Linked DNA regions of Homo sapiens: all the other regions are reported to be linked to region 1. The links are microRNA targets in miRTarBase. Many come from high-throughput screens and were not tested one by one. Region 1 holds a microRNA gene; each other region holds the end of a gene's coding sequence.

Evidence for each region. Region 1 holds the annotated microRNA hsa-miR-124-3p (UAAGGCACGCGGUGAAUGCCAA, at 3,698-3,719, shown strand). A microRNA usually pairs through its seed, bases 2 to 8, with sites in the 3' UTR of a target mRNA and lowers its output. Matches are read on the target gene's strand: a 7mer-m8 pairs with bases 2 to 8, a 7mer-A1 pairs with bases 2 to 7 and ends in A, and an 8mer does both.
Region 2: miRTarBase lists HLA-E as a target of hsa-miR-124-3p. Seed matches in the 3' UTR shown: 7mer-m8 at 5,396-5,402 and 7mer-m8 at 5,182-5,188.
Region 3: miRTarBase lists HOXA3 as a target of hsa-miR-124-3p. The part of its 3' UTR that is shown has no 7-base or 8-base seed match.
Region 4: the mRNA of TOMM34 is a reported target of hsa-miR-124-3p. Seed matches in the 3' UTR shown: 7mer-m8 at 1,819-1,825.

Annotation. Positions count from the first base shown.
Region 1 is chr8:9,900,118-9,907,117 of GRCh38, reverse strand. It overlaps MIR124-1 (microRNA 124-1), which reads left to right and starts at 3,646; the gene lies at 3,646-3,730. MIR124-1HG (MIR124-1 host gene) reads left to right here and starts at 3,789. Exons shown (of 3, transcript NR_024281.1): 1 at 3,789-6,429; 2 at 6,506-6,563; 3 at 6,832-7,000. It overlaps LOC124902057 (a long non-coding RNA gene), which reads left to right. Exons shown (of 4, transcript XR_007061170.1): 2 at 1,756-1,959; 3 at 2,490-2,586; 4 at 2,931-3,048.
Region 2 is chr6:30,491,885-30,499,019 of GRCh38, reverse strand. HLA-E (major histocompatibility complex, class I, E) reads right to left here. Exons shown (of 8, transcript NM_005516.6): 6 at 6,584-6,616; 7 at 6,437-6,479; 8 at 4,826-6,271. The coding sequence ends at 6,439. Among named protein-coding and RNA genes, the nearest start is that of HLA-E, 5.9 kb to the right of the region's middle.
Region 3 is chr7:27,102,245-27,109,398 of GRCh38, reverse strand. It overlaps HOXA3 (homeobox A3), which reads left to right. Exons shown (of 6, transcript NM_153631.3): 6 at 679-2,389. The coding sequence ends at 1,484. HOXA2 (homeobox A2) reads left to right here and starts at 6,716. Exons shown (of 2, transcript NM_006735.4): 1 at 6,716-7,154. The coding sequence starts at 6,899. RefSeq lists an enhancer at 6,042-6,881.
Region 4 is chr20:44,937,215-44,944,368 of GRCh38, reverse strand. TOMM34 (translocase of outer mitochondrial membrane 34) reads left to right here. Exons shown (of 7, transcript NM_006809.5): 6 at 790-916; 7 at 1,156-2,239. The coding sequence ends at 1,260. It overlaps PABPC1L (poly(A) binding protein cytoplasmic 1 like), which reads right to left. Exons shown (of 15, transcript NM_001372179.1): 13 at 6,178-6,308; 14 at 5,621-5,695; 15 at 5,053-5,243. The coding sequence ends at 5,627. Among named protein-coding and RNA genes, the nearest start is that of TOMM34, 20 kb to the left of the region's middle.

The DNA of each region.
Region 1 (7,000 bases):
CGTCTTTAGTTTGGCTCTTATAGGCGGATTCATTCTGAGTCATTCCTGAAGGCCAAGCTCACCCTGTGCTCCCGGAAAGACACAAACACCGCCACGGCCACCACAACAAAAGGCGCCTCCCCGAAGTAGGTCTGATGTCCGCGGGACGGGTGGGCCCGTCGTGGAGCGCACTTCTGCGCCTCTAATCTCGGGCGTCCATCTGGCCCGGGCGCGCTGGAGGGCTCCGGGAGGGGCGGGGCCGCGCGCCTCCCAGGCGCGGGCACGCGCGCCGGCTCTCCTTCATGTTCACCTTGACTGCGGGGGGGCGGGGGATGGGGCGATCGTCCCCCTCTCCCCGACTCCTCTCCCAACCCCCCGCAGCTGTCCTGCCCAGACGCCCGCCCAGGCGGGGTGGGGGAGGCTGCACCGGCGCTCAGGTCGCCGCAGCGGCCCGGCAGCCGCCGCAGTGATGTCAACCGCATCCGCCGCAGTCCCCGGCAGCCCTAAAACGCGCCGCGGCCCGCGGAAACCCCAGCCCGGCTCCTCCCGCCAGGGCCGAGGAGGAGAGGACGCGCGGGTCCCCGGAGTCCCCCACTCCGTCTGCCTAAGCCGTGGAGACCGGGAGTGGACGCACGGCGGTGCCTGGACCCCCGGGGAGGTGGAAGAAGAGGAGAGGGAAGGGAGCTGTGGAGTCAGGTGTCGATTTGACGCCCGCGGCCGCCGAGGGGACTCTGCCCGGCACTGGTGCCGCCTGGGGGGCGTTCAGGGAGCGTGGGGCGCCGACCGCTGCAGATGCGGCGGCGCGCGTGGGCTCGGGCAGGCGCCCCCTTTTCCCGGGATAGAAACGGATAAACGGAAGCGCGTGTGAGTGTGGGGGTGCGAATCGCCACCTCCGGCCTTGGCTTTCCCGCTCTTCCGAGCTCTCCCACTTCTCACTTTCCCCAAATCCGCATTTTCCTTGGCACAGCTCTCCCCGAGCACGAAGGAGAGGGAGGTACCCGGGGGCAGTGAGAATGACGTGTGCTGGTGCAGAGGGGGTGGGGGTCTGCGGGCCTGGATCTGTGGACGGGCTCCTAATCCTCTTGTTTTCGGAACCGTCAGCAGATGCGGCTTCCTTTACCTGAATAATCCTTTAAAGGAGTAATAATTTTTAAAAAGGAGCTCGACCTCAGCCAAAGAGGACGGCGCACGAGATTAGGGCTTGGTAAGGAAAAATTAAAAGGCTCCCAATTCTCTCTGTCCCTCTCTGCCTTCCCCTCTACCCCTCCCCCTCCCTCCTCCACCCTCCCCTCCCCTCCCCCTTCTTCCTCATCCCCTGCAATCCGCGCTCGACGCGAGTTCACGCGAAGGGCTGGATTTCCAGGCGGCTCCGCAACTTGCGCGGCGCGGTGTTATTATTCATCCGAGGGTGCTGCCTCCTCAACCTTTGCCTCCTGCGCCGCTCTCCTTCCCCCGGCCGCCGCCGCCAGCAGTGCAGTCCCTCCGGCACGCATGCTCTGGTTCACCAAGAGGGAGACTGATTTTTTTTAAATCATGCTCATCATCATCATCATCATCATCATCATCATCATCACGTTCCTTATCATGGTTATCATTTCCTCCTGCCAGGTGGAGCGACCACCAGCGCCGGCTCGCCTCCTGCGCCTTCCCCAGCGAAGGCAGCAAGCAGTTCGGGCTTGGCCGTGGCGGCCGCTCCCAGGATGCTTCCTGCACCTCCAGCATCCCCCCCCTTATTCATCTGCCTGTGTATTATCTCGATCCTTTTCATTTCAGTAGATCCACTGCCTTTGGTTGGGCCGGCTGAATCGCTGGGGACTGCGGCCAGTCTCTTAAAAAAGGAGAACAAAAAGCCGAAGACCTTGTGTGGCCGCCGGGACAAAGCACCTTGGGTTCGGCGAGAAGGGACGCGCAGGAGCGCTGAACCCAGAACACGCGTGGCCGCTGCGGAAGGGCGTCCGCCCGGCGTGCGGAACGCTGAGGGTATTCGGATTGTCTTTTATTTGTCCCTGTGGCTTGCTTTCACAGTGTCTACGTAGGAGAGGGGTCGGGGTTGTTGGGGTCTCTTTTTTTTTCTGGGAGGGGTAGCTGAATTGTGGGAGACCTAGGTGGACTTGACTTGGCTTTCCTGCTACTCTGCGTCTCCTTCTCAAGATGCGGGGGTTGGAAAGGGGACAGGGGACTCAAGGCTTAGAAAAGAGAAGGAGCCCTCTGCTGCCTGGAGGGCTAAGGGAGTAGAGAGTGGAGATGGAGGTGAGTAGGGATGGGCCAGCCCGAAGAGCACTGAGGAGGAGAAGGGGTCTTCTCCTCCCTCGGGTCCAGTGGATGAGTTTTGCTGGGAATGAGAATTCGGGTGTCTGTCGATAGGAGCGCTGAGAAATTGATGAGAAATTGACATGTCCGTGCACATGCATGAGGCGGCGACAGGATTTGTGTGTAAACAGTGTGGAGAGGTGGAGGAGGGCATGGGGGTGGGGGCTTAAAATGATGTCTTATTGTCCTTTTGGCTTTAGGGACTCTCATCCTCTGTCTCGCCCCCTTTTTTTGACCCGGGGATCCAGCCGCATTATACACGAGTGACCTTTTAAATCTACGTCCACCCTTTACCTGGTAAAGCCCGCTGACAGTTGGGGGTGGGGTGGGGAGAGTGTAGGGGTGCTCTCTCCCTCTCTCCCTCCCTCCGCCTCTCCTCCCTCCCTCCCCCCTGCACTCCTCTCTCTTCCTCCCTCCCACCTCCCTCGCTCCCGCCCTCCCTGCTGCATTTTGCATGAGCTATCTAGGTCATTAGCATTTTAGCGTATGCAAGACTTGACAAAGCTGATGAGGGGCCAGATGGGCCTCGCTCTTATGGTTTTTTTTTCTTCTTCTTCTTCTTCTTCCTCTCTCTCTCTCTCTCTCTGTCTCTCTCTCTCTCGTCTCTCTTCCTTTCCCCCCTCCACCACTTGGGACCTGAGCGAGAGGACTGCAGCAGGCGAGTTCCGGAAGGCTGAATCCCCAGGTCCCAGCCCCGGACCGCGGCAACTCGCCCCTGCGGCACGCCCGGCCCGGCTGCGCCCCCACTCAGCGATGGAGGTAAAGAGGCGGCGGCCGCGCGCCCTGCCCCGGCTGCCGCTGCCGAGTCCCCGCTGCTCTCCTTGTCCTTCGCTCTCTTCTTCCTCCTCCTAGTCCCCTTCAGTTTCCTGGGCGAAGCAGAGGGCGACATGGGTGGGTGGGTTGCTGCGCTGGGGCGAGGTGGGGTCGATGTTGTTTTTTCATTGTCTGGAGCTGCAGGGGAGGCGAGGCGCGGGGAAAGGGGCGAGGGGAGCCGGGGTAATTAACACGGGGGAGGCACCCCTCCGTCTCCCACTTCCACCCACACCCCCATCCCTCCACCCCCTCCGCTTTGCAGGAAAAAGCCTGGATGCGAAAGGATGGGGGAGAACAAAGAGCCTTTGGAAGACGTCGCTGTTATCTCATTGTCTGTGTGATTGGGGGAGCTGCGGCGGGGAGGATGCTGTGGTCCCTTCCTCCGGCGTTCCCCACCCCCATCCCTCTCCCCGCTGTCAGTGCGCACGCACACGCGCCGCTTTTTATTTCTTTTTCCTGGTTTTCTTATTCCATCTTCTACCCACCCCTCTTCCTTTCTTTCACCTTTCCTTCCTTCCTTCCTCCTTTCCTTCCTCAGGAGAAAGGCCTCTCTCTCCGTGTTCACAGCGGACCTTGATTTAAATGTCCATACAATTAAGGCACGCGGTGAATGCCAAGAATGGGGCTGGCTGAGCACCGTGGGTCGGCGAGGGCCCGCCAAGGAAGGAGCGACCGACCGAGCCAGGCGCCCTCCGCAGACCTCCGCGCAGCGGCCGCGGGCGCGAGGGGAGGGGTCTGGAGCTCCCTCCGGCTGCCTGTCCCGCACCGGAGCCCGTGGGGTGGGGAGGTGTGCAGCCTGTGACAGACAGGGGCTTAGAGATGCAAACAGACTCAGGGAGAGAAACAGAAGCTGATTCTGTGACAGAAGCAGATCTGTGCAGCACAGATGCGGTGTGCGTGGGGAGGGGGTCGCCTGGGAGCGCATTGCGGAGTGCTTGTGTGTGCAGATTTTTCTCTGGGCTCAGGACTCATTGTATGTGGGTCAACACCTTCCTCCGTGACTGTGTTTTTGTTCTGAGCTGAGTTTTTTGGTTTGCCCTTAAAAAAATAATAATTTGGCATCCAGAGACTGGCAGACTGCCTCAGGGCCTGGACTGCGGATATATTGTGTTCTGCTTGAGGTTTGGGGAGGAGGGCAGGCGGTAGGAAGGGAGAGGGGGAGCTGTTTGTCACACTTTGCTGTAGAGCTGAGAGCACCTGACAAGCTTAAGGAAGTCGTTGGGCTATGTGGACAAGAAGGAGCCAGCTCCCAGCGGGTTCACAAGCTCTATCGGAGTTGAAAGCGTGGTCATGGCTCTAAGGAGCACCTCACGCCCTCCCTGTAGCTGTTATTGCAGTTTCAGGCAGAGATCCAGGAGCTGCAGAGGAAGGGAGAGGCACAATAACCTACATGGACCCAAGGGAGACATGTGTTCCTTTAAAAATGTGAACAGAAGGAAAAACAGAATGTGTGCAACTGGGGGTCTGAGGAAAGACTGTTTTGAAAGAGGCTGTCAGGGAATGGAAAGGGTTAAGCTTTTCATCCTGAAGAACCTGCTTCCCAAATCAGGCCTTCCTCCCATCACTAGACCCTGAGCAGCAGCTGGTCCTAGAGACCCCCCTCGTACTGCGCTGCCACAGTCTCATCCCATTTCCAGCTCTGTATTAACCACCAAGCTGCAGCGGATGGGGCAAGACCTAAGCTCATTAATTTCCAGGTGGAGGAAATGGAGGAGGGGCAGGTCCCTGCAGTAGAGGGAGGAGCAGAGAAAGGAGGCCAAGAGCTGGATCCTTCTGCCCAGGAAGCCTGCTGCATCCCTTCCCCCGAGCATGGCAGAGGCCTGGCTTTGCAAGGCCAAGGCCATAAGGGATGCTTAGGAGATTAATTTGATTCCTGACACAATAATCAAGCCCTAAGAGTCTCCACTGAAGCTTACTGAGGACTTCTTTCCTCTCCAAAGCCTCAGTCTAGCCTGCTAAATAAATTAGTATTCAGTGATGCCTTGGATCAGGGCCCCTCCCCGGCCTCAGTTTCCCCAAATATTTATTAAGTACCTACTGTGTGCAATCCTTGTGTAATTATTAACTCTTAGGCTCTTCATTTGCCCTCCTAAAGCAGTGTTTAGAGTCAGGCAGAGGTTAAGTGTGTTGCACCTCACCTAGATACTTCCAGAACCTTCTCTGGGTCTGCAGAATGTGGCACAACCTGCTTGCCCCCGCAGAGAGAAAGCTGCAGTGCACATCCTGCAGACTGCAGGTGCTGGGCTGCCTCTGGAGTCCCAGAAGGCAAGCTTGGCTGCAGGACAGAAAGGGAGAACAGCTTCTCTCACCCCTGAGCCTTCACAAGCCCTTGTCTATTTGCCGTTGCCTTCAAAATATACCTCCCCCGAAACCAGTAGCTTTCTGAGTCCTGGTGTCCCCTCCGCCCTTTCTGGACAGGTTTGGGAAGAAGAAAGCAGTCAGTGCTGGGCCTTATTGGGGTGTGAAGCGCCTTGCTCTGCCCCTTCTGCTCACTGTGAAGGCCGCTGGATGCTTCTCTTAGGCATGGTTTAAGCCTCCGATTACTAAACCCCTTGCCCCACAAACGTCCACATTGACGAGCCTCTTTTTAGTAACTGCTTCCCCGTAATTCCTTCAGAGGTTGCTGTACCCTTCGCTGATGTGCTGCCCTCCTGTAAAACCTCCAGATGCCTTCCCACGTAATGCCCCTTTCAGATGCTTTAAGCTGAGAGCTTAAACCACAGGTACCATGGCTGACGCCTGCCAGGTTTCTGCTGCAGATAATCTATGATGGGAGGGGCATATTTTTTACTTCATTACTTATGTAAACTCTTGTTCCAGAAAGCTTTAATGTGTGTGGGAGTGTTCTGGGTCTATTAGGTCTGTGCGCATGGGTGTGGGCATTTGCCTGTGTCCACCGGGTGGGTCTCATTATGAAATGTATGTTTATGTAGGGCTTTAATGGCTGAAAATGGCAAAGAGATGAATAGACCACTTGGCCCCATGTGTAATTGCCAGGCCCCTTCTGTGCTCAAATGAGGTGTCCGAGTGAAGGTCAGCCCTTCCCTTCTGTATTTGGGGCCTATTTATGCCACCAGTAATTTTATAAGAAATCTGAATAGTTCTCCCCTTTGAGTGCATTTAACTCTTTAGTATCTTCTCTCTTACCTATTTGAGCCCCTCTAGCTACAGTCTGGCTTAAATGAAAGGGGAATTATATGCTTAAGAAAAAGTAGGACACGGTTGAGGCAGTTTGCTGACTGAATACGCGAAGAAGGACCTGATGGGCTCATATGCACCACTGCCATCACAGTCCCCATCGTGATGCAAGCTTATATGATTCTTGAGGTAACTCTACCAGATACTTCCAGATTTAGAAATGTGTCAAAGGAAAAATTGGTGATACTCTTCTTTCCCCTGCCAGAAACAGCCCAGATCTCCTCTTAAGCGGAAAAGAGATTGACCTTCTAGCAGAGGCAAAGGTAAACTCCTGTAAGTTACTTCTGTTACCAAAGGGAGGGGGGCGGCTTTTGTGAATGTATGAGGAGCTTTTGCCAGAGAGATATTCGGAGGAGGGGTGTGCCCATATGCACACATATATTTTCCCGCATAACCGTATCCAATGCTAGCATTTAGAGGAAGGCATTTAGCCACCAAAAGTCCATCCATCTATGCTGCTTCCACAGAGAAAACATTTTCTCTTTCCTCCTCTTGAACTTACATAATATCCTCCTCCCATTCCAACCTTAGAATGGAGTCTTCTGGGGGCAGCTGCAAAGCGTTCTCCCTAGGACAGATGGAGCCTCCCTTTCCTCATCTACTCTGTGGGTGGTTTCAGGGCCCACGAGTCAACATGAGGAGTTGTGCTGGTGGTATGTGTGTTGGAGGCTGGGCTGGCTGATTCACAGTGACGAGGATG
Region 2 (7,135 bases), not on the chromosome of region 1:
CGCCTCTGCCCCGCCGCCCCGTCTGGGATGTGCGGAGCGCCTCTGTCCGGCGGCGACCCCGTCTGGGAACTGAGGAGTGTCTCTGCCCGACCGCCACCCCGTCTGGGAGGTGAGGGGCGTCTCTGCCGGGCCGCCCTGTCTGAGAAGTGAGGAGCCCCTCCGCCCGGCAGCCGCCCCGTCTGGGAAGTGAGGAGCGTCTCCGCCCGGCAGCCGCCCCGTCCAGGAGGTGGGGGGCAGCCCCCGCCCTGCCAGCCGCCCCGTTCGGGAGGTGGGGGGCGCCTCTGCCCGGCCCGTCTGGGAAGTGAGGAGCCCCTCTGCCCGGCCGTCACCCCGTCTGGGAGGTGTACCCAACAGCTCATTGAGAACGGGCCATGATGACGATGGCGGTTTTGTCGAATAGAAAAGGGGGAAATGTGGGGAAAAGAAAGAGAGATCAGATTGTTACTGTGTCTGTGTGGAAAGAGGTGGACATGGGAGACTCCATTTTGTTCTGTACTGGGAGAGGTTCTTCTGCCTTGGGATGCTGTTGATCTATAGCCTTACCCCCAACCCCGTGCTCTCTGAAACATGTGCTGTGTCCACTCAGGGTTAAATGGATTAAGGGCGGTGCAAGATGTGCTTTGTTAAACAGATGCTTGAAGGCAGCATCCTCATTAAGAGTCATCACCGCTCCCTAATCTCAAGTACCCAGGGACACAAACACTGCAGAAGGCCGCAGGGTCCTCTGCCTAGGAAAACCAGAGACCTTTGTTCACATGTTTATCTGCTGACCTTCCCTCCACTATTGTCCTATGACCCTGCTAAATCCCCCTCTCCGATAAACACTCAAGAATGATCAATAAATACTAAAAAAAAAAAAAAAAAAAAGAATCACGTGTACTGGTTGAAACAGCACCAATAAACAATTTAGGCTCTGAGTTGGACACAGTTTGGTAAATACATGTTCTACAATGTTCCATAGTCTTTCAGTGTCCCATGGGATATTTGTTCCCCCATAGAAAGCATAGGTAGAGGTCCTTTACATACCCTGCAGGGACGCTGATTTGCATGGGGAGGGCTGGCACACAGCCTCTGCTGGGTATGAACAGTACAAACCTCTGGAGGCTGTGCTCTGTTCAGGACTTGGAGCTGGTTGGGGACCTCCAATGCCCTGTGCTGACGGCTGGCCTGGGGGCTTCTCCTCACTAGGGTCTTCTCTCAGTCTCTCAAGGTGGGCACAGTCTCTCCTGGACACACAGGCAATGGGCTGGACAAGCATCTCTTTCCTCTAAGGCCCAGTCACCAAGTATTCCCTCCAGGGGACCGGGTTTGGAAATTTTCACTACATATAACAGCCCTTCTGTTGCCTCATATTTTCTAACTCTGGCGTGGTGGTTCCCAGTCTCTTTACCACTGAGGAAGCATAGGTGATTTCTTCCCTCCCTCTGTTTCAAAATGGTTTTAACTACCAAACAAAATCCTCTAAGTGATCATTTGCCTTTCTTTCTTTCTTCCTTTCTTCCTTTCTTTCCTTCTTTCCTTCTTTCCTTTCTTTCTTTCTCTCTCTCTTTCTTTCTTTCTCTCTCCTTCCTTCCTTCCTCCCTCCCTCCCTCTCTCTCTTTCTTTCTTTTCGAAGCGCAGTTTCACTCTTCTTGCTCAGGCTGGAGTGCAATGGTGTGATCTTGGCTCACTGCACAACCTCAGCCTCCTGGGTTCAAGCGATTCTCCTGCCTCAGCCTCCTGAGTAGCTAGGATTACAGGCATGCGCCACCACGCCCAGCTAATTTTTTATTTTTAGTAGAGACAGGGTTTCTCCGTGTTGGTCAGGCTGGTCTTGAACTCCCAACCTCAGGTGATCAACCCGCCTCAGCCTCCCAAAGTGCTGGGATTACAGGCGTGAGCCACCGCGCCCAGGCTTCATTTGCTTTCTTATACTGTTCATCAAGATATATTTAAGGTCATCATGAAGACAAGGTTACATCATTTACAATATATGGAAGTAAGTCCCAGCCCCCGTTAAGATCCTAGTCTGGGCTAGCTGGCTGAGAGGGGCTGTTAAAACTCTAGTAATAGGAATAGCTGTCTCCCTGTCATTCTGCTGCTATGGCAGATGCTTTTTTCCTCTAGGACCACTGACTTCTGGAGATCTATGATTCATAACCTTGTGGCTAGAAATGAGATGTCAAAAGAGGACAAGATCACTCGGGTTCCTCCTTCCCTTGGGTTCCCTCTCCTGGGCCAATTAAGAACAGGCACATGGAGAAAAGAACCCAGAATTATCCCATAATCACACAAAGATCTGTTCACATACAATGGCCCAAGGAGGCAGGGCCTGCCCATGAGTCACCATTATCTACATAATGCAGCCTAACTATCCTGTTTTGCTTTTAGCTATTCAAGACTTTTCCGACCATGGGGAAGTCCCATGGCATGGGCTGTTTTCCCAACAGTATCTTGACTGAATCACTGAGTGTCATGCCAGAGGAGTGGGACCTGGTTGACCCCTCTTCCCTGGTGTCCAGGTGCCCAGGAACCCCTATGTGGTAGTGGGATCCAGATCTAAGAAAGCACAGCTCTTGTGTGGCCTCATGGGGAGTACATGCCTCACTGGGCTGGTTCTAAATTGTTCCAGGGTCAAGCCAGGAGGCATAAAGAACCTGCTCTTTCATCTTCCAACATTTTTTTTTTGGTAATAACCCAATTCCCTGATTAAAACATCTACAGTGGTGTCTTACATTTTTCAAAGCATAACTCAAACATTTTTTCCTTTAGAAAAACCTAAGTCTCCTAAAACAGGGGTTCCCAAGCCCTGGGCCATGGACTGGTACCGGTCCATGGCCTGTTAGGAACTGGGCTGCACAGTAGGAGGTGAGTGGCAGGTGACCAAGCATTAGCGCCTGAGCTCTGCCTCCTGTCAGATCAGCAGTGGGGTTAGATTCTCATAGGAGTGTGAATCTTATTGTGAACTGTGCATGCGAGGGATCTAGGTTGCTCGCTCCTATGAGAATCTAATGCCTGATGACCTGTCAGTGTCTCCCATCACCCTCAGATGGGACTGTCTAGTTGCAGGAAAACAAGCTCAGGGCTCCTACTGACTCTACATTATGGTGAGTTGTATAATTATTTCATTATGTATTATAATGTAATAATAGAAATAAAGTCCACAATACAGGTAACGCGCTTGAATCATCCCAAAACCACCCCTCCGAAAAATTGTCTTCCATGAAACCGGTCCCTGATGCCAAAAATGTTGGGAACCACTGTCCTAGAAAACATAGTTTCCTCCTTGACTTTTGGCATTTTGTACGTTTCTTTCAGCGCTAACCACAATAGTTATCTTCAAGTCTGTTTATTCATTGTTACTAAATCTTAGATTCCTTCAGCGCAGGAACCTTTCTCGCCCCCTAGTCCCACCCTGGACCTCACAACATTCTTTGAACACAGGAAGGGTTCGATAAATATTTGTTAAAGATCCCTTGGAGTCTGGCTTAAAAAGATTTAAGATCTAAAACTGAGGAAGGCAGATCTTTGAGGTGAGGCAAACATAGCCTGCCGATATGGCAGGAAGTAGAAATGGGCAGACCAAGTAGAGAAGGAAAATAGTTCTATACTCCTTATGAGTAGTATATAGGAGTGGGATAAAAAGTAGGATATAGGAGTCCAAATTTCCATCAAATCTATAGATTGATTTTCTTTGCATTAATTAAGACTTCTGGTGGAACGTGGTGGCTCATGCCTATAATCCCAGCACTTTGGGAGGCCAAGGTGGGTGGATCACCTGAGATCAGGAGTTCGAGACCAGCTGGCCAACATGATGAAACTCTGTCTCTACTAAAAATACAAAAATTAGCTGGGCGTGGTAGCAGGCGCCTGTAATCCCAGCTACTTGGGAGGCTGAAGCAGGAGAATCACTTAAACCTGGGAGGCCAAGTTTGCAGTGAGCCAAGGTCATGCCATTGCACTCTAGCCTGGGTGACAAGAGTGAAACTCAGTCTCAAAAAAAAAAAAAAAAAAGACTTATTTGTTGTTGCTAAAATGCAAAGATTCTGGGCTTATGAAGAAACTAATACTCCAGTAGGAATGCTTGAAATAAAAATATCTACCACTAACTGAAACCTAAGTATCAGGTTGCCCATCTTGTGTTGCTGTAATATAATACGCAGACTGAGTAATTTATAAAGCAAAGCAGCCTATTTCATGGTTCTGGAGGATAAGAAGTCTAATATCAAGATCCCGGCATTTGGTGAGTCTTTTTGCTGTATCATCTCTTGGTAAAGGCAAGTGGGTGAGTGAGGGCAAGAGGTTGAACTTGCCTCAACCTCAAGCCCTTTTATAATCAGTATTAATCCATTCATAAAGTTGGAACCTCCATGGCCAGCCAGCCATTAGGATTCACTTCCCGATATGGTTGCATTGTGGATTCAGTTTCCAACACATGCTTTTTGGAGGACACATTCAAACCACAGTACAGGTACTTTATATTAGCTTTATAATGACTCTCCCAAGAAAACAGTGCCACGTACAAGATGAGGAACTGGAGCTCAGACAGGTGAAGCCCCACCGCGTGTCACACAGGAAGAAATGGCAAAGTAAAAATTCACACCCAGGACTCCCTGGGCTTTCTCACCGCACATGTTGCCTTCTTACTGGATATCACCTGACAGAATGAGACTCAGGTGATTACAGGGATTCACCAGGAAAACGGGAAAGTCGGCATGACCAGAACTAGAACATGGGCCAGTGAATGCAGTTCTGGGTGGACCATGGCATTGGAAGCCAAAGGATAGCTTGAATGTGGTTAAAAAATTAAAACAACAAGGCACAAAACGCACAAATGAAATACAAATGATGCTCAAACACAGCTTTTATTTTACTTCAAAGTTTACCTCAGATCAGCCTGGGAAGGTGAGGGGAATGAAGCAGATGCTGTTAAAGGGTCATGGGAGAGAAAAGGTATCTGTGGGAAGAGAATAATCTCTTTTGACTTCGTGTGCTGCCTCACGGACACACTGGAGCAGGGATTGGGCCCCCAAGGCCTCAGGTAGCCCCGTGCCTGTGGCTTTGCTGGGTGCAGCCTACGTGGCTGCTCGAATGGGTTGCAGGCTGGTGCCTAAAGCTTTCCCAAGGGGGCGCTGCATGCTGCCACTGACTCCACAGTTCTGGGGTCCTGGTGGTGGTCAGGTCCTGCTCCCAGCGCTCCACAAGGCACTCTCTCCTGTGGCCTGGATCCACTAGACACTAGACATTTCCCTGGTGGGGGCCCTCTGTGGCAGCTGCACCTCACATTTCCACTTAGCATCACTCTAGTGGAGGCTCTCTGTGGGCTGGGCATGCTAGCTCAGTTCTCTTTTCCTCTTCTTATAAAGCCACCAGTCCCATTCCTGTGATAACCCATTAATCCATTAACCCATGAATGAAGGCACAGCCTTACGATCCAATCACATCTCAAAGGCCCCACCTTTCAGTATTGCCACATTAGGGATTAAGTCTCAACATGAGTGTTGGAGGGAACATTCAAACCACAGCAGTATGAAAACAATATTCAACTCCAAGGTATATGGTCAAGATTACAGGTGGTAAGGAATAGGCTAGAGAATAGGAATAGGCTAAATTTGCTAGAGATGTGCTGTGGAATTATCTGTATTTCTAGCTATGATCTTAGCTTCCTCAAGTCCATTTCATTGCAAGAATATGAAAAATTAAATTGAGATCCAGGTTCTTTTTTTATTTTTCAATTTTTATTTTTTGAGATGGCGTTTCACCCTGTCACCCAGGCTGGAGTGCAGTCGCACAATCCTGGCTCACTGCAACCTCCGCCTCCCGGGTTGACGCCATTCTCCTGCCTCCGCCTCCTGAGTAGCTGGGACTACAGGCCCGTGCCTCTGCGCCCAGCTAATTTTTTGTATTTTTTAGTAGAGACGGGGTTTCACCGTGTTAGCCAGGATGGTTTCGATCTCCTGACCTCGTGATCTGCCCTCCTCGGCCTCCCTAAGTGCTGGGATTACAGGCATGAGCTGCCGCACTCTGCCCAGGTTCTTATTTTTAATAGAAAAGAGAACAGGGAAGGAACACAGGTCAGTGTGAGGAAGGGGGTCATGGTAGACACAGAGGTGGACTGTTTCTCTACCTCCTCACATTGTGCTAACAGGGACACAGACAGATTCAGAGGCCCTTGCAAAAAGAGAAGCCAGAGTCCCCTAAGACACATAGGGGAGGCGTGAGGAAATCCTGCATCTCAGTCGCACACAAGGCAGCTGTGCATCTCAGTCGCACACAAGGCAGCTGTCTCAGGCTACAGAAGAAAATAGTCATGAACAAATTCAGGTCAGTCACGGTAAGTGATGACACTCTGAACAGCCCACCACACACTCAAAAATTCTGAATCAAAAAATCCCCACAACCCAGTCCTGTCCCCTCTGCCCCACCCTCCACCCACTTCAGACCCCCAGAATCTCACCTTTACAAGCTGTGAGACTCAGACCCCTGGGCACTGTCGCTCCCTGGGGTAGAACAAAAACAAGACCTGGTCAGAGCCCACAGGAGATGTGGTGCAGGAGGAATTATAGGGTGGGCGAGCTCCTCCACGCTCCCGCCCCGCACTTACACTCAGCCTTAGAGTAGCTCCCTCCTTTTCCACCTGTTGGAAGAAAATGTCCTGTGAGGGGCCAGGGAGGAGGCAGGGCCATAAGGTCCTAGAGGAACCTCCTAGTTTTGGATCCCAGAGAAGTTTCCTGAACTGTGACTGCAGACCCAGGGCAGGATCAGGAAACGTGAAGAAAGCAGGTGTGGGTCCTGGATCAACTGCCCTTCTGAGGTCTGTCTTCAGCAGGGACCTTCCCCTGTGACCTGTGACTGCTGGGATCAGGTCCCCATCACCACAATCGTCAAGGTGATAAATCTGTCCTTCATTGTCACAGGTGCTTTACAAAAGAGTAGGTGCGGCTGGGTGCGGTGGCTCACGACTGTAATCCCAGCACTTTGGGAGGCCGAGGCAGGCAGATCACAAAGTCAGGAGTTCGAGACCAGCCTGGCCAACATAGTGAAACCCCATCTCCACTAAAAATACAAAAAAAAAAATTAGCCAGGTGTGGTGGCACGCATGTGTAGTCCCAGCTACTAGGGAGGCTGAGGCAGGAGAATTGCTTGAACCTGGGAG
Region 3 (7,154 bases), not on the chromosome of region 1:
AGGATCTGGGGGGCCAGGGAAGACAGAAGGGTACAAGATTAGTGGACAAAAGCTGGGGCTGGCTGCTTGATGACATAGGGAACCCTAAAGAATAGGACCTAGCATGAAGGGCCTAGGCCTCCCCACCAGAAATACCTTCAATGGGATCTCTTCTTTGGGCAGAGAAGGCCTTCCAGTTTGAGGTTTCCAGTCTGCCCATCTCCTCTGGGTAGAGAGAAAAAAGTGGCCAGTTGAAGCTACTGCCTAATTATTGTCAGACAGTGTGGGAGGGAAATGAGTGTGTACATTAGGTTTCCCACATTTCAGTTACTGTGAAGAGAATGGAGATGCTGAGACCGGCCCACAGGGAGGCTGTTGTCCGATAGGCCAAAGGGACCAGTAAATGAGTCAGAAAGTTAATAGCTCTAAACAGAAAATCCAGACCAGGAAGGCAAACCGGGGGTTCTACTTCTCTGTCCTTTCCCCCGAGAAGGCTGTGATTTGCTCCTTGGCTAAATGAGGGAGTATCACTGTTTTACCCACCAGGAGAGAGGATAGCACCTAGTTCCTACTTCTCTCTGGGACCTGACGGATGCAGGAACCTTTGGGGCCTGGTGGAAGGAGGGGCCGGGCTGGGTCAGGGGCTGGGCGGGGCCGCGGCAGCCCCTGACGCCGCTCTTCCTCTCTCTGTCCTCGCAGGCGAAAGCTGCGCTGGCGACAAGAGCCCGCCGGGGCAGGCTTCGTCCAAGCGCGCGCGCACGGCCTACACGAGCGCGCAGCTGGTGGAGCTGGAGAAAGAGTTCCACTTCAACCGCTACCTGTGCCGGCCGCGCCGGGTGGAGATGGCCAATCTGCTGAACCTCACTGAGCGCCAGATCAAGATCTGGTTCCAGAATCGCCGCATGAAGTACAAAAAGGATCAGAAGGGCAAGGGCATGCTAACGTCATCGGGGGGCCAGTCTCCAAGTCGCAGCCCCGTGCCCCCCGGAGCCGGTGGCTATCTGAACTCTATGCATTCGCTGGTCAACAGCGTCCCGTATGAGCCCCAGTCGCCCCCGCCCTTCTCCAAGCCCCCCCAGGGTACCTACGGGCTGCCCCCCGCCTCCTACCCTGCGTCCCTGCCCAGCTGCGCACCCCCGCCACCCCCACAGAAGCGCTACACGGCGGCAGGGGCGGGCGCAGGGGGCACCCCCGACTATGACCCGCACGCTCATGGCCTGCAGGGCAACGGCAGCTATGGGACCCCACACATACAGGGAAGCCCCGTCTTCGTGGGGGGCAGCTATGTGGAGCCCATGAGCAACTCCGGGCCAGCCCTCTTTGGTCTAACTCACCTCCCCCACGCTGCCTCGGGCGCCATGGACTATGGGGGTGCCGGGCCGCTGGGCAGCGGCCACCACCACGGGCCGGGGCCTGGGGAGCCGCACCCCACCTACACGGACCTTACCGGCCACCATCCTTCTCAGGGAAGAATTCAGGAAGCACCCAAGCTCACCCACCTGTGATAGTGGGCTTGGGGCTACGCGCCAGGAGAGTCTCCCCCCACCCACCTTTTTTCTTTGGTTGCTTTTTTTTTTTTTTTTTTTTAGGTTCTTCCTGCCCTTTCCTTCCTTCCTTTTCTCTCTTCTCCGCCCCGCACTCCGTTTCCCGGTTTCCCCCCTCGTTGGTAAGGCGTTTTTATAGTTTATGTGACGTAGCAATCTTGGTTGCTGGAATGGCTGTATCATAGCGATATTTATCTCTTCCTGCTCCTCGATAGGCCACTGGCCCTGCACCCTTTACCTTCTCCACTCTTTGATCAGAAACAGGGTATATGAACAAATTTTCTAGTCGAGTTTTCAATGTGAATTTGTTCTTACATTATGGCTCCCGAGGGGAAGCGATTACTTTTTTTAATTTTAAATTTTTTTTTTAATTGCACTTCTTGTAAAGAGTGAGAAAAAAAATCAAAGGCGCTTTGAAACAGGGGCTCTCTGTGCAAGGATGACTAAGTGTACGTCTTTCCGTGTGTGTATGCTGGTGAACAGTCAGATTTATTTATATTTTTTTGCAAGCATTGAATAATCTAAGTTTTAAATATTATTTATCCCCATCCGTTCGTATTTATATTAAAGAATTCTGTACCCTGATGGTTCAGAAGGGTTCTTGGGCCTTTTGTTCAATTGTGTATTGGCGTACTTAGAATTTTTTTTATTTGAAAGAGAAATATAATTCCTTTAAACGGTAACGATACAATAAAACCAGAGAAGATCCAGCTTTTGAAAACAGTGATTTAGGTTTGTAACATCCGGCAAAACTGAAAAAAAAAATCTGTAAACGCGAAAAATACTAGATTTGTTTTGAGAGTTCTTCATTCCTTGCTGCTCACATTCTGAGAAACAAAAAGAAATAAAGTTTTTATTCTGAATAATATCCGTGTTAAGAAGGGGTTCTTTGGCCGAAGACGTGGGTCTGCGTGGAATTCAGGCCGAGGCGAGCCGGCAGAGCAGGCCGGACGCAGCAGCCCTCTGGCTCCAGCATGGGGCCTGGCCAGGCTATTCGCCTGGAAGCTCGGCGAATTCTCAGGATGGCGGCTGGGGCTCCAGGCGGCTGCGGCAGCTCTGGTAACGCCGTGCGGCGGGCCAGCTGGGCTGCCCGGTTCCCAGCTGCTGCGGAGGCAGGCTGAGGGCGCAGGGGCTGCCGAGTGCTGTGCACGGAAGAAACAAAGACATCCCGGCCCAAGGCGCAGCGGGAGCGCACAGGTGCCCCGCGGCCCAGCCGGGGGATAACGCAGGGCGGTCTTCTGCTCCATGCTCTTCCTCGGGTCAAAGCGGACCAACTAACGCCTAAACCTCGGTATTAGCCAGCCGCGCAGAGGATGCCGAGCACTTTCCGGGAGCAATCGGACTCCTGGTCTCCTCCGGGGATGCTTCGCGGTCTGTTATCGCGTCAGGAGGAAAGAATTGCTCCAAAAATCTGCACGCGGAGCGAAACAGTTTGAAAGGGACTGAGGCTCACCCAGGTCTCCAGCAAACGGAGGACTGAACTGGGGAGAGTCACCCTGAGCCAGCCCTTCCCTGGACTGCCGGAATCCCAGCATTAGCTTCCTGCTGAATGTAGTATTTGGCATTCTCTGAATTTATTTCCTCTCCTTCCCCCACCCAGCTTTCTTTTTATGGCCCCAGGGGGAGGGGGAGAGAGCAAGGAGATCGGTATCTTTGTAATAAAACTGCAATTTTATAAATTTTTCATTTGATGTTGTAGGAGCTAAATATTACATTTCCACTCCTGGATTTAAGATAGGGCTGCTTACTGACTGGCTAGAAGAGGCAAAAGAAGGCACAGTAAAGGGAAATATTTTCATCTTCAGATTTAAGGATTCCTCGAGAAAGGAATCAAATTCAGAAAATGCAGACCTCAGACCTGCATCCCCATCATCACCCCCTTCAGAGCTAGAAGCGAGGAACTGCTTTCGTCTGGGGATCAGGAGCATCGGATGTGAGAAATAAATCCCTATTCTCCCTGGATTGTATCTTTCAGAGACAGAAGTGGAAAATGTCGCCATTTTGTTTGCAATCCAAAATATCCATCATCATGGCCTTTATCTTCCCCCTGTGAAGCTCCCTCAGATTATCCTTAGAAGCAGGCACTGGAGCCATTTCTGGGTACCTGCTGGGTCCCAACGAGCTGCTTTTAGAGAAACTCCTCATGGTTTAAGGAAAAGGCTCGGAGGATGCCAAGCCAGGCTGCTGTGGAGAGCTCAGTGTTTCTCTCACACCCAGAGGTGCTTTCCCCATATCTGTCCTAAGGCTGCTGATATATATATCCTTTTTAAAGGGTTTGGGCTATGGGAGAAATAGATTTCCTCTCCGCACCTCAACCTCTGCGCCAAAATATGGCGCACCTCAGAAATGCAGAGGCTGCAAAACCAGGCTTTGTGAAGACTAGAGCTTCCACCTCTTCGTCACGCTAAGCAGATACAGGAGTCTTCTTTTAAGTAATCAGCTTAGAGACACGTGTAAAATTACCTGGAAAAATAAGGAACAGCTAGGGGAGAGATTCACCTAAGGATGAAGATCCTTCAGGGATATCACTATTTGAACACGTTTCTGAAATCTACTCTTTAGCTGAGGGAGGGGTGGTTTGGAGGCTTCCTCCTTCCCCCAGGGCTAAGATTTTAAAATGAGATTCTAATGTGATTTCCCGCATCTTACCAGTCAAGACATTCATTTTGGCTTTCAAAGAAAAAAGTATTGACTTCACCCCCCAGTTTCCTAGATATTAAAAAGAAATCCTTATTAAAATATCTCATAAGTTAAAGTAATAGATTTGGGGAAGATTTCAGTGTTGAGTGGTCAAAGAAAAGGGTTTTCTTCCAGATGGTATTTGAATTAAGGCGGCTGAGGCAGCAGAAAGCTCTCACCCACGCAGCCCCTGACAAAGCCTCAGAGATATGGGGGCAGCGCTGCTCCCTCTCTGCACCCCCCGCCCACGTTCCCTTAAGCCTGTAATATTTTCTGGTAAAAGCAGATGCCAAAAGCTGCCATCCCAGGGTTCGCAAAGCACCCTTCCTAAAAGGAGCCCTATAACCCTTTTCACTGCCAAAATATATTTTTTAAAAGACTAGTTTTCCTTATTTACTTGCATTTCCTGCTCTCCTCTTTGCTCGGCCACATTTTATCTTGGAAGGAGCTGGAAGCTGAAATGTGTTCTTAAGGGCTAGAAGCTGTCAAGGCTTTTGGTGAGCAAGATTGATCGCGCCCAGACTTCCTTTGGAGCTTTGTTTGGAATAAAAGCAAGAAAACTAAAAAACCTCACATTTTCCAAAATAGCATCTCTATCTGCAAGGCAATGCTCTGGGCTGGTCAATGATATAGGCCACTTATGTCTAATTTCCACCCCAAACCCTCTTTGACGCTGGCCTCAGAGATGGGGTCCTGCCTTTGCTCCTTGGTTGGCCTTTCTTGTTTTCTACGTAGATTTTTCTCCCCCTCCAACCTCTCTCTCCCTGACCATCAGAATGATTTATTTTCCTGCCATTGATGCCTGCCGGCCTGGGGGAGTCTGATCAGTTAGTCTATTTCAAAGGAAGCAAAAGCGAATCACCATCCTCAGGGTTTGGGGGGGAAAGAGGTACCTCCAGATCTACCTCTCAGCCTCCTCACCTCTTTCTGGCTTGGTGGATTTTTTAAAAATTATTTTTTGGTACCTAAAGGTGTTATCTTTTGAACCCTCTAGCACTGTCCAAGATGCGCTCAGTCTCAAGTCTCCGAATTGGAAAAAAGATAATGAAGGAGAACGAAAACCTTTATAATTCCTCCTTGGGTCGCCTCCTCTCCCCCGCAGTGCTGTTTCCCACAACAGAACCCGGAAGCAAACATCCCCGGTGCCCAAGGATCAGGAAGGTGTGGGAGGCAGTTCAGGCTGCCAGGGAGCACTCGCTGTATCTAAACCAACCAGCCCCCAACCAGAGCGACAAGGACAAGAAGAAGGGTAGAAAAAAAAGAGAGAGGGAGGGAAAGAGAGGAGCAAGCATCTTCTCTTTCCCTGCTGGTAACTTCCAACAGACTTCCTGGAAATCGGAAATACTCACCGCACCCGAGCCCTACGGGTATGAAACCCAGAATGCCAGGAGCCGCACGCGCCTGCTCGGGGCGGCATTTCTTTGGCTGGCCGCCGCCCTGGCTACGGGGATTTGGACACATGGACCTGGGGTTGTTGTCTCGCTTGGCACATGCATCTTTCTCCAGCCACTCCTGAGAAGTTGATGGCGCAGGAAGGTCGGGAAGCTTCGAGAGCCGCCTCCCGTTTTCCGCTTCCCGCCGGAGCCAGATGCAAAGCTGCCGTGGAATAGCCTGCTAACAATGGGCCCGGGGCGCAGACTCTGGGCTGGACACTGGGAGGGGGGCGAGAGGCTGAGGGGAGAAGGGGAGGCGGACAGAAGAGAGAGGGAGGGAGAAAGGGGGAGAAGAGGAAAAAGAGGGAAAGGGACAGACAGGAAGGAAAACAGACCGAGAGAGATCAGTTTTGAGATCCAGGAACTGCTTTTAGGAAAAGTGAAGGAGGAAAAGGGAAAGAAAAGGAAGACCCCTTCCCAACCAAAATCTTTCCTTTCTTCTCTCTTTTCTGTCTTCTCTTTCTCCATCTCTCAAACTCTCTCTTCTTCCCTCTCTCTTTATTCTCCCTCTCTCATCTCCTCTCTTCCTCTGCTCCTTTCTCCTGCTTTAACAGAACTTATGTGGCTGGGACGCAGGGCCCTCGGGTGTCAAAACTTTGAAGATTAATGGATTACTTTGTTAATGACTGCAGGCGTCAGACTGAGGTGCTTAAATGATTTGTGAGGTGCGAGGCGTCTTCCCGACAGTCCCAAACAATGCGCGGAGTGTGCGGGGGAGGCAGAGGGCAGCCACCGGCGGGACCGACAGCAGGGCTTACACTCGCGCACATTCACACACACACACACACACTCCCAGGCACACACACTAGATAGATCCTTGCAGATCAGGAGGCACGCAGGCACCCTCGCCCCCACGTACTCCGGGACATCCCCACCCACACCAACATATATGTATTTTTGCTCTGAAAAAAGTGTAAATAAAGCCTCGCTGGCCCCCAATGAGGCGTTCCTTCCCGACTTTTTTGGATCAATCAAACAGACAGTGGCTTCTTTTGATTAAAGCCCAAATTGTCATTGGGCAGAAGCAATCATGTGACAGCCAATTCGGTCCAATTTCAACCTTGTCTCCATGAATTCAATAGTTTAATAGTAGCGCGGTCCCCATACGGCTGTAATCAGTGAATTAGAAAAAAAACACCCTAGCAGCGATATTCTATGATAGATTTTTTTTCCTCTGCGCTCGCCTTTTTCCTAGGCCTTGCCCCCCCAAAGCCCCTCCAAAAGAGGGAACTTTTTCTCTGAGGGGGCTCCAAGGAGAAGGCCATGAATTACGAATTTGAGCGAGAGATTGGTTTTATCAATAGCCAGCCGTCGCTCGCTGAGTGCCTGACATCTTTTCCCCCTGTCGCTGATACATTTCAAAGTTCATCAATCAAGACCTCGACGCTTTCACACTCGACACTGATTCCTCCTCCTTTTGAGCAGACCATTCCCAGCCTGAACCCCGGCAGTCACCCTCGCCACGGCGCTGGCGGCCGCCCCAAGCCGAGCCCCGCGGGCAGCCGCGGCAGCCCGGTGC
Region 4 (7,154 bases), not on the chromosome of region 1:
GTAATGAGCGCCCAGACATCTGACTGTTTTGTTTTTAGTGACTGTCTTTGGAGAGAAGGACTAGATCTGAATGAGGAAGATATATACACACATGCACTTTTTTGAACCCACAGATGCAGAATATATTGTATGGATGCACATAACTTTTTTCCAACATTTTATTATGAAAATGTTCAAAATATAGGAAAGTTGAAAGATTTGTACATTGAACACCCATAGACCTACCATCTAAATTCTACAATTAGTATTATTACATTGCCTTATCACTATTTAGCCATCTGTTGGTCTGTATTATTGTGTTTGATGCACTTAAAAGTAAATTGCAAACGTCTTTACATTTCACCCCATGTCAGCATTATATCATTAGAGTTCAGTAGTTGTTGGGTTTTTTTTTCCCCCTTAAAGTAGATAATTTTTTAATCTGTCAAGGGAAAAGTTTCAGGAAACCTTTTCTTTGCTTGAAAGAGCTCAGTATAGGAGAGCGCAGTACAGCATGATAGAACTAGATGAGATCAGGATCTGGAGTCCCATGAACGAACGCCCGCCTATTTGAATCCTGGGTCTGCCCCTTAATACTGGCGGTACCTGGCCCAAGTTCCTTTACCCTTCTGAGCCAGCATGTTTCATCCATGAAAAGGGCTAGGATTGTTGTGAGGATTTAAGAAGACATAAAGTAACCAGCACAGAGTAGGTGTTCAGCAAATTGGAGATCACTTCTCAAACTACTGCGTGGCATGTGGGTGGCCCATAAGACGTGACTGAAACCTCTGAAATGGTCTTTCCCTTCAGAGCACTCTGCTATTTGGTCCTGAAGCAGTACACAGAAGCAGTGAAGGACTGCACAGAAGCCCTCAAGCTGGATGGAAAGAACGTGAAGGCATTCTACAGACGGGCTCAAGCCCACAAAGCACTCAAGGTAAAAAAAAATCCTGGCCAAAAGGTCCCAACATAGCTACAGAGATTTATGCCAGTGTCACCATTTACAGGGTGTAGCCAAGCTGAGACAATATCTGCAGCTTTTCCTTCTCATCCTGGGCCCAGGATAACTCAGAGCAGGCCTGTGGGCTGGGGTTTGAAAACACTTTGCTGCCTCAGCAGCTATCCCCACCCCAGTCCGGGAACCTTCCCCCACACTCCTGTCTTTTCTTCTATTAGGACTATAAATCCAGCTTTGCAGACATCAGCAACCTCCTACAGATTGAGCCTAGGAATGGTCCTGCACAGAAGTTGCGGCAGGAAGTGAAGCAGAACCTACACTAAAAACCCAACAGGGCAACTGGAACCCCTGCCTGACCTTACCCAGAGAAGCCATGGGCCACCTGCTCTGTGCCCGCTCCTGAAACCCAGCATGCCCCAAGTGAGCTCTGAAGCCCCCTCCTCAATCCCTTGATGGCCTCCCACCCTGTAAGAGGCTTTGCTTGTTCAAATTAAACTCAGTGTAGTCAAACACAGACATGGTTGTTGCACCAGAAAGGTCCCCACTAGAGCTAAGCGTGAAGCTGAAGCTCTGTCCCTATTCCCCCAGCCCAGCTAGCTGATCACACCAACAGATCCTCATCAGCAAAGCATTTGGCTTTGTCCTGCCCAAGTGGGCTGCAGACTGAGTGCTGCCCTTGTAGCTTCCCCAGACCCCAACTCACTGCAGTTCATCTGAACAACCTGAGCTCCTGGGCCGGGGTGGAAGGAGGGGGATAAACCTAAGGCCCTGATCCAAAGCAGCCTGTTGAGCTGGTTCTCCAGGGCTGCAGTCTCTCCAGGTGTACAGCTGCTGTCCCTGCCCTGTCCTGTCCTTGCACAGTCTCCTATGTCTGAGCCCCAGTGCCTTCTGTTCGGGCCCTCCTTTGGTGGGAAGGCAGAGCCCTGACCCTTGAATGGTTGTCCTTGACTCTGTGCTGCTGCCTTCTGCAGAGAGGCACCTAAGCTGTTTAAAGAGCCCAGTGATTGTGGCTGCTCCTCCTAGAGGTGGGAGGGGGCAAGAGGCCTCCTTGGTCAGTGTCCATGCTTTCTGGGCAGGGACTTGGTTTTTTGTTCCAACAGTGGCCTTCTCCGGGCTTCATAGTTCTTTGTAATATGTTGAAGTTAATTTGAATTGACTGATTTTGTTGAACTGTGTGTTTAAGCTGTTGCATTAAAAAGCTTTCTTCTACATCAATATCTGCTGTGCTTTCATTTATGCCTTTTCAGCTTTGCACCTGGAACTCTGTAGTAATAATAAAAGTTATTGCTTATTGGGCATTCATTCATTTGTTGAACAAATTTATTGACATGTCTGCATGGGCCAGGCACTGTGAATAGTGCTAGGGAGATAGATAGATAGCAGTGAATAGACACAGCCCCTGCTCTCAGAGGGCTGGTAGTCCAGTGGGAAGGCAAGAAGTTAATCAGACAACCACACACATGTAAAATTGCAGCTTGCCTGAGTGTTGTGAAGCAGTCGTCAGTGATTTCCCTGCCCAAAAGGGGAAATTTGATGCAGTGGAGGGAAGGGGGTCCCTGAGTAAGTAAAGCTTGAATTGAGTTCCAGATGGGGAGGTTAACTAGTGAAGAGGGGAGGGAAACACCGTGGACAGAACGGCCATGTAAGGCCCTCATTGGGAGCACAGCCAGTGAGTACAGGGACCTAAAAGGGCTGATGAAATTCACAAAACATGGTATGGGGTGAGGCTGGAGAGTGCTCTAGGATCTAGCTAGAATCAAGGGCTGCCTCCCTTTCCTGGGCTGGTTTTCACCTAATGGAAGTAGAGTTTTAGGATTCCACAGAGCAGAGTAGACAAAGGGGTCTGATCATCCCTTGGCTCCCATCACATAGTGCTAGGCAGCACTCGGCGTTAAGCACACCACCTCTGAGCTCTCTTAAGGATGAGTCTGTTGTCTGAGCCATCACAGACATCCAGGCTGAAGCAGAGTTAGAGTCAGACAAACCCCATCGGCACAGTCAAGGGACAGTTTCAAAGTGGGGCACCGTACCCCTTTTATTGCCTCATAAGCAGGCAGGACTGATGTGAGGCAGGTTTCGTGACATCCAGTCACAACTGGTTTACATCATTCTGAGCTCTAGAAGGCAAGCAACTTGATTTGCTAGTGAAGACACAGAGGGTGGGGCCGGCACAACCCGAAGAGACTACTCATTTTGTACTTCAAAAATGTCTGAAGAACACAACATAAGCTTCCTCATCCCCATCACTCATCTTTGAAATTTAACATCATTCAGTCTTTTCCAGAGATGCTTTGAGGAATAAAACTTCTGCTTCTCATAGGTTAATGTTTCTAGGAGAGGGACACACAGCTATCAATGTGACTGTCTTAATGGTCATGATGGAATTCTACCCCGACTCCCAGAGAAGGTAAAACACCGTTACGTGGGAATGACAGGGCAGAGAGCAGATCATGCAGGGTCTCCTAGGCTGTGTAAAGTAGTCCTTATTCTAATGATGGGAAGCTACTGCAGGATTTATGCAAGGATGAGACATTAGAGAGGCATTTTGAAAGAAGCCTTAGGACTGCATGGTGGAGGACAGACTGCGGGAGGGCCAGGGTAAATGCAGTTAACTGGCAGAAGGCAGTGAGCGCAGGGGTTGAGCTTAGCTCAAATTAGTGGATTTATTCCACTAGGTAGTGGTAGTGGATTTGGATCTGGTAGGAGGTCATGTTGGTGGATTTTCTCTGGAAGAGGGGAGGAGAGAAAGTGGTGTGGCAGCAGGGCTGGGGAAACCCTCTGATTTTGGCTTTTGCAACAGAATGGTGGGGCCATTTATGGAGACAGAACACTGGAAGAGAGAATCAGAGAATAAGACCGGGCACGGTGGCTCATGCCTGTAAACCCCACCCGAGGCGGGTGGATCACCTGACGTCAGGAGTTCGAGATCAGCCTGACCAATATGGTGAAACCTCATCTCTACTAAAAATACAAAAATTAGCTGGGTGTGGTGGAGTGCACCTGTAGTCCCAGCTACTCTGGAGGCTGAGGCAAAAGAACTGCTTGAACCCAGGAGGTGGAGGTTGCAGTGAGCAGAGGTCACGTCACTGCACTCCAGCCTGGGTGACAGAGCGAGACTCCGTCTCAAAAAAAAAAGAACCAAGGAATGAAAAAGAAAGAAACTTAGTTAAATCATAAGCTTGAATTTAGACATGAGTGTTACCAAGATAACCAGGAGCTGATGGCAGGTAGGCGGTGGAATGTAAGAGAGGTGACTCAGGTGCTCTTAAGAGTTGACTGGGCTGAAGAAAAAAACAGGGAGTCATCCTCGACTGGGTACAAATGGAAGATGCGCTTGTAAATTAGATAGCTCAGGAGAACATGGCATGAGAAACCGAGAGGGCCCAGGACTGAGAGTAAAGAAATGCCAGCAGTCAGGATTTGGGGAGAAGACGATGGAGCTGCACAGGGAACAGATTAAAAGCAGCCAAAGAAGTGGGCAGGACATGGTGAAGACAGGTTGGAGGTCTGTGGAGCGGAGAACAGGAAGAGTGAGTTGCTGAGAGTGGCAGAGCAGCCTTGAGGACTCGGTCAGATTTGTTGCTGGTGAATTTTTAGCAGAACCCAGTCTGCTTGGGTCATAGTAGCCACTTTCACTGGGCCGCTCCGGTACACGAGAGGGCAAAGACCTGGACTGTACGTCCCTGATGGGAGGTGAGCACTAACTGACACAAAGAAGCTTTTCGAGAGACTTCTCCATTAGGGGAGGAAAATCCTGACCTGGGAAGGTACCCTAAAACGTTCCTACAAGGGTTAATTATGTTACACAACCCCTTAGCCAGCCGAGAAGCAGCTGGGTGTTTGCCCTGCAGGGTGCCCAAGCCAGGGGCTGCATGCACATCAGATGGGGGCCCCTGTAGCTCTGGTCCATTGTGTGATATCCATGTCATCATCCACTGTACTGTTGATGGGTCAGTTCCTAACACTTCTCCTGCTCTTGTGTATATGCCCTCTGTGTACTTCAGCACTCCTTTAGGGTTTCTGTTTCTTAGAGCCTGAGCCCCACCCCAGTCATGTCTACCGTTTGCTCTGTCCCCACCTCCCTCAGACACAAAAGGGCCTCCTGGGAGGCAAGGCAGATTTTGCAGCACTTTTAATACACAAAGCAAAAGGTAATAGGCTGGATGGGTGACCAACCTTCATTCACATACAGAGCCCAAGTATAGATACAGACTAATTGGGAAATAAGTTAGAGTTTGCAGGGCCTTAGGGCTGAGAGCCAGAAACACTGTCCTTTTGGCAGCCATGGAAGCGAGGATTTCCTTTTCTGAGGACAAAAAGGTAAAAATAAGTGTTTTTAAAGTATGGCAGACACCCAGTCTTCAATAAAGAAGGTGGTTACATCCTGGCCAGGCCTTCAGGCAGGCAGAATGGAGCCAGGCAGGGCCCTGGGAAAGCCCAAACTATTCTGCATGAAGCCAGGCAGGGCAGCTGGCAAGAGGGCACCTCCTTCACCCTCCACCACCCCCCATTCCGATCACAGTTAATCATCTCCTCTGATTCTCACAACTTCCTCCAAACTCTTTGGTGCTTCAGAGAAAGCCAGGAACACGGCGCAATTCTCAGTGTTTGTGAAAGTCAGTCCCTGCCTATTTCCTTACAGCTTCTCCCGGGCTCAGCTGCTTCTGTCACCATTCCACCCACCTGGTTTCAGTGCATGTACGCCTTCGGCTGCTCCATAGCCTGGTGTGCCTGCAGCACGGCCACTGCCTCGTCTATCTGTGAGACATGAGTGGCGGGGGGGCTTAGTGCAGCTATCTTAGCAGGTCACAGAAGAGCCTTGATCTCCCCCTCGCTCACCATCCTGGATACAGGATCCTCCTCCATCCACAGGGTTTCTGTGGAACCCTCCCATCCACCACTGCTTGCAAGATCCCATGGCCCTGTCTGTCACCTTTGACACAGAGGTACATTGCTGGACAGCTGGAAAAATCTTAACCCTTACACTGAGTCACAACACACTTCCTTGTACCAAAAGACCTACCTACAGAACAACACAGAATTAGTCTACGGAAGGGCTGAAGTAGCAAACCCTTACCTAAGGCCCCTTCCACTCTTAAGATTCAGCAGGCCTTCAGGTATTAGCAAGAAGAAACACTTTATCTGGCCAAACAGCTATCCACTGGCTCCACTAGGAGAGCCCTTGTCGTTAGCTCTCCTCCTGCCCCCTCGGGCTCCCTGCTGCCCAGGCTCCTGCTTACCTTGGCATGGAGGGATTCTGGAGACTCCAGCATGAGCAACAGCTCTGAGTTGTCAATCTCCAGCAGCATGCCCGTGATCTTGCCAGCCAGCTGGGTGTGGACATCATGGATAAGGGGGTAGAGACGCTCCCCTGTGTGGAACACCTTCTAATGGCTTGTGCACGGCCTAGCTCACACCCCAGCATCCCAGGGCTCGTATGGAGTGGAGCACTGAGGACATCTGGGTTCTTCTCCCAGAACTGCTCCTTCTAGGCTATGACATTTAACACTTGATCTTCTAACATCAGGTACTTTTAATGACTGGGCCTGGTATTGGTGGTCAGCCCATCTCAGCAATGTGTCCAGGGCCCAGCCAGGACTGGGTGCCTTAAGTGGGGGCGGAAAGGATCGTCCCATGAAGAAAGTGAAAATGTTTACAGAGAACTACTAACAAAGACTTCTACTTCCATTAAGCTCATTCAAAATGTTTCTGGGTGAGGCCAGGCATGGTGGCTCACACCTGTAATCACAGTACTTTGGGAGGCTGAGGTGGGTGGATCACCTGAGATCAGGAGTTTGAAACCAGCCTGGCCAACATGGTGAAACCCCATCTCTAATAAAAATACAAAACTTAGCTGGTCATGGTGGCATGTGCCTGTAAGCCCAGCTACTCAGAAGGCTGAGGCAGGAGAATCACTTGAACCCGGGAGGTGGAGGTTGCAGTGAGCCAAAATCGTGCCACTGCACTCCAGCCGGGGCAGCAGAGCAAGACTCCATCTCAGGGAAAAAAAAAAAAATTTCGGGGTGAGGGGAAGGGGTAATGTGGCAAAACCCTAAGTAAGCTGAGGAAACAATGGGGCAGTGGTAATGGGGGCCTTCAGTAAAGGGTCTGGAGGTCTCGGGGGCCATGCAGTAAAGAACCTGCCAACCAGGAACAAGCTTGTGTTCACTTAGTGGCATTTTTATCAGGGCCTGCCATGGACACTAGGGGTGAAGAT